Linked DNA regions of Homo sapiens: region 1 is linked to region 2. Evidence: fine-mapped expression QTL. Tissue or cell type: lung. Region 2 holds a variant in brackets; the other region holds the start of a gene. All regions are shown on one strand. Distances are between the middles of the regions.

Region 1 (2,609 bases), 97 kb before region 2:
AATGAAAATCTATAAAATTTCATCATCTGTAAATGCTGATAGGAAAGCACATTTCTGGAGAAATAAATGAGAACAAATTCTGCGATAAGCTGCCACTTGTTTCGAATTTGTGTGAGATGCTACACTCATTTCATCTATGTTTCTTAAATTACTTGTAAAATTTTTTAAGATGACAGTAGTAGCTGAGTATTTTCACTTATTTCATCTTGAGATGTGTGCTGTTTCTTTGTAAATAGCAGAGATTCAGTAAAGTTAATGCCAGTGTTTAACTATTAGTAGGACAGCCAATGATCATCTCGGTGACTCGGGAAGTTGGTTGGCAGTGCCTGATGACAGTGCTTGACGATCATCAGAAAGCTGCTTGGGATGAACTTTTAGAGACGAGAAACTATAAAATCCTTGGCTTAAAAGAGGGTTTGTTTGTTTTTTTTCTTTATTTAAAAAAAGCCTATTTAAAAAGTACTCAAGATTAAAGATAAGATTAAATCTAGTTAAGTTTTTGATGGAACCTAATCCCCAAGCATTAGCTTTCTCATTTCTCTAACTAAATGGAAAGATAATGGCAAAATGAGAAACTACTTGACTGATGTGTATTTCTTTAACTCAACTTAGACTTAAACTGAATTAACATAAATCAAAAGGAAACGATCAATATACTTGGAAGTCTATGAACTCCCTAGTTCCCTAGTTTGTCATTTACTAAAAAATTTTTAGTAAACATTTTTGTTTCGTAGAACACATATCAGATGATTTTTTTAAACAAAAGGTGAAACAAATAAATCCATTAATAATCTATAATTAGAACAACCAGTGCTACATTCAACCAGTTCATTTAAAGTAAAAACTAAAAGTAATGATGTTTTAAATTTCATGCAATTTTTAAAATTGGAAAAATGTATATATTACCCAAAACAAGAGTACAGAGGTAACATGAAACAAGCAATTATCCTCTTCTCCTTTTACATTGTAGAGACAGAAAAAAAACTGTATCCATTACTACATCTAAAATGTGCAGTAAGGATCCTTTAATATTCTTTTCAAAGCTGGGACTATTGAGAGAACAAGACTCCAGACTCCTTCGAGCAGGAATCCCATTCTTATCTCTAACATTGAATTTAAGACTAGTAAAGGCTCTTTCAAGACTAACATAAGGGGAAAAAAAAAATCTTACCTGAGAGTTGAAAGGATATTTCCCTGGAGTCAAGGAGAGGAAGAGATAAGAGAGGATTTAAGAATCCTATGAAAAGCAAACAGCAGGAGGCCAGCTTATACATGATCGCCACAAGATAGACGGCTTCCTTCTTGGCTTCTGTTGTAGAGAACTTTCAACTGTCTCCTCATTCTGCCTGCTCACTGATTATATATATCATCCTATGACCTGACATCATCCTCTCCAAAAAAAAAAAAAAAATGAATTTATTGGCTATGGAGGCTAAAAGGCAATCACTTTGCATTGATGTAATTTTTCAAGGTAACAAGTCATAGACAATAAATTAACTGTCTTGTTGCCTAGTGTACAAAGTAGGTATTATATAAAGAACAGTGAGTTTATAAATCTGGCAAAAGAGGCAACTTACAGCAATAAATCATGAATTAAAGGAAGGCTTGGATATGAGTTGAAGTGGCCAAAGCAAAGAGACGTGGATTTATGAGTCCGAGCAGAAGTGACGCAGAGCATAAGATGAAATACGTTGGTTTCCATTTTTTAATCTTTCATGAGTGAGTAGATGAGTTGCCATGCTGTGTTTAGGGCTGCCATCCCTGAAGAATGACAATCTGTGGATTAAAACGTAAAACCAGCTATTTCCTTTAAAACAGTGAAAAGTTAAAATACATAGCAAACATTGCTCCAGGCTCAAGACAATTCTGTACATACACGTGGCCTCATGTGAAGCCGCAAGCACTTCAATCTTCAGAGAAAGGAAATAACTTCATAAAGTTGATTATTATTCAGCAAGGAGGGAGGAAGGACTTAACACCAGAAAACTCGCTGATAAACATTTCCAGAATGTGGCCTCTACTCCCAACTGTACTCTGCCCAAGCTGGTCCAAGCCCGGATGGGTGGAAAGGTCCCCGACAGGCGTCCTGAAGTCTGCCTTCGGGCCTGCCACAGGCTCAGCACAGCAGAGTGATGCCAGAAGCATCTGCATAAGTCAGATCATGGTAGTTCTTTGCTCAAAACTTTCTGTGGACCTAAACACAAAAGTTACAAAGATAGGCCAGGCACGGTGGCTCATGCCTGTAATTTCAGCACTTTGAGAGGCCGAGGCAGGAGGATCACTTGAGTTTAGGATTTCAAGACCAGCCTGGGCAACATAGAGAAACACTGTCTCGGCCGGGTGCAGTGGCTCACGCCTGTAATCCCAGCACTTTGGGAGGCTGAGGCGGATGGATCACGAGGTCAGGAGTTTGAGACCAGCCTGACCAACATGGTGAAACCCCGTCTCTACTAAAAATACAAAAATTAGCCAGGCATGGTGGCACGTGCCTGTAATCCCAGCTACTCAGGAGGCTGAGGCAGGAGAATTGCTTGAATCCAGGAGGCGGAGGGTGCAGTGAGCCAAGATTGCGCCACAGCAGTCCAGCCTGGGTGACAGAGCGAGACTCT
Region 2 (2,760 bases):
TTCCTCTGGTCCCTTCAACGCTGAATTTAAACAGATTGCGACTACCACTAAATAAATGTTTTCTAATAACAAGAGCTAATACTTATGGGTGGCTTCCTGCATTGCAGATGTTATGCTAAACACTTTAAATGTTTTATTTAGTCTCAGAAGACAGATTTTGTTCCTTCTGAAGAGGCTAAATAAAATATTTAAAGTGTTGAGCATAGGCCGGGTGCGGTGGCTCATCCCTGTAATCCCAGCACTTTAGGAGGCCGAGGTGGGCGGATCACCTGAGGTCAGGCATTTGAGACCAGCCTGGCCAACATGGTGAAATCCCGTCTCTACTAAAAATACCAAAATTAGCTGGGCATGGTGGCGTGTGCCTGTAGTCCCAGCTGCTTGGGAGGCTGAGGTGGGAGAATCACTTGAACCTGGGAAGTGGAGGTTACAGTGAGCCGAGATCACACCACTGCCCCTTAGCCTGGGCAACAGAGTGAGACTCTGTCTCACAGATGCACACAAAAAAAGTGTTGAGCATAACATCTGCAATGCAGGAACTCCATGAGGTAAGAATTATTGTTACTATTCTAATGTGAAGAAACAGAAGCCAAGGGAGTTCAATTCCTGAGACAAGGATTAAGGGCAGCATTTGAGGGTTTACTCCAGGCCAGTGTTCTAGCTTTACCTATATTCATTCATTTAATTCTCATAGTGACCCTGTGAAGTACACAGGTTCTGTGATCCCTGTTTTATAGATGGGGAACATGAGGCATGAGGGGTAACTCATTTGTTCAAGATCACTTAGCTAGCATGGGACAGAGCTGGGCTTAAATCCAGACAGGCTGGACTCAGAGAGCGAGAACAGGCTCTCCCACCACACCATACTGCCACATTTAAGGAATGGAGACACCAGGGATGGAATTGGACGCTGTCTCATTCCAAAGCTACCTTAACATCTGGCCAAGAGGTATGACTAACATAGGAGCTAGCTGTAATGGCACATTCCTGTGAATTAGTAAAAAGATGTGTTGACTCAGCAACCAAGGGTAAGACTGTCAATTCCGTGGTTTAAGAGCTGAGTTGGAAACCACATCAGAGCTCGTCTACATGAATGACTACCAAGAAACTGACGATCAATTTAAACTTTGAGAAATGTGATGAAGAGCAGAATTGACAGCCTCATAGTAGTCAATTTTTGGAGGAAGTTAGACTAGCTTAAAATAAGAGCACGTAATCAAAAACCATTAAGTAAACACGGGCTCTTTATTTTTAAATTCGGATGGCGAGAGATAGTTGCTACATGCCGTTAAAGGGAAAACTAGTCTTTGGGGTGCAGGTGACAACTGTGATCAAAGCAGTATCACCCCAAGAGGCAACATTATCCTGAAGTAACATAACTTTGTACCGAAGGCCAGCTTCTGGCTGTGGGGTACTAGCTCCCCGTCCCTAGCGTTCACCTTAACCCTTGGGAAGGAAAGTACTATTAAAATTAAGTAATATACAAATTCATCTCAACTACTGTCAATTAACATTCTAGTGT[C/T]CTTATTCAACAAATCAAAAGCAAGGCAACACCAGGAGATGGATTTTGTTTCCTTCTGAGCTTTTTAATGGTGATCAGCATTTTCTACCAAATAATTCCACTCACAAGTCGTTCTCCACAAAATCCGTCTCCTGTTCTTCTGTGTTTCCATTATAATGGAAGATTGTTGGATAAACCATTAGTTTTCATAAGATTTTTTTTCTTCAGTTAAGTATCACCATACTAAATAAGTATCACCACACAAAATAAGAGTTCCAACTGTCCCTGTGTGTAAGTTATAACTACTCCATATATATGCCTATAGGGTCTGTTGCACTCAACCTCAAGCAATTTCCAAGTTTCATTATTATTATCATTAGATTACTCTCTGTCCCTTATCAATTCAGTAAATTTAACTCAACAAGCATTTATCGAATGTCTAATGCAAATCTGCACATTTTCTAACCCATTTACTTCTCCTGTTTTGCATCCTACCACTCCCCTCTAGCCTGACTTGTTTTCAATTTTTAAATTTTTATTTATTTTTGAGATGGAGTCTTGCTCTGTCGCCCAGGCTGGAGTGCAGTGGCACCATCTCGGCTCATTGCAACCTCCGCCTCCTGGGTTCAAGCGATTCTCCCACCTCAGCCTCCCGAGTAGCTGGGATTACAGGCACCTGCCATCATGCCCGGCTAATTTTTGTATTTTTAGTAGAGATGGGGTTTCACCTTGTTGGCCAGGCTGGTCTGGAACTCCTGACCTCAGGTGATCCGCACACCTCGGCCTCTCAAAGTGCTGGGATTACAGGTGGGAGCCACTGCACCCGGCCACTCCCTCATCTTATTTGGGTTTTCTCCTCAGAAAACAGCATTCTTTGACCAGTGTCTAAACGAGCACCCTCCCCCCACCATTATTCTCCATCTTCTCTCCCTCCTTTGTTTTCCTTCATAGTACATACCACCACCTGGCATGCTATTTATTTGTGCTTTTGTTTACTGTCTGTCGTTTCCCCATGGAACATAAGCTCCATGAGAGGGGACACTGTTCACTGCTGCATCCCTGGCACCCCAGAGCACTCCTGAGAACACACAACAAGCCCTCCATAAATAATTGTGGAGTGAGTTTTATTGTCTTGTATGGCATATATAGATAAAGTGCCATCCCAACAGTTTTCCCAGCCTTGAGTGGAAGGAAGAGGTTACACAAATAACTAAGGCCACACAGCCGTACAGATTCTATAATAGGAGGGCAAAGTGCTACGG

The links. PIP is the estimated chance that this variant, and not a neighbour inherited with it, causes the effect.
Region 1: UTS2 starts here. The variant in region 2 is fine-mapped to the expression of UTS2 in lung (TOPMed, PIP 0.92).

The regions. Positions count from the first base shown.
Region 1 is chr1:7,851,730-7,854,338 of GRCh38, forward strand. UTS2 (urotensin 2) reads right to left here and starts at 1,336. Exons shown (of 4, transcript NM_006786.4): 1 at 1,172-1,336. The coding sequence starts at 1,274. RefSeq lists an enhancer at 856-1,544.
Region 2 is chr1:7,948,184-7,950,943 of GRCh38, forward strand. No RefSeq gene overlaps it. Among named protein-coding and RNA genes, the nearest start is that of TNFRSF9, 8.7 kb to the left of the region's middle. The variant C/T (reference allele first, on the strand shown) is at 1,520.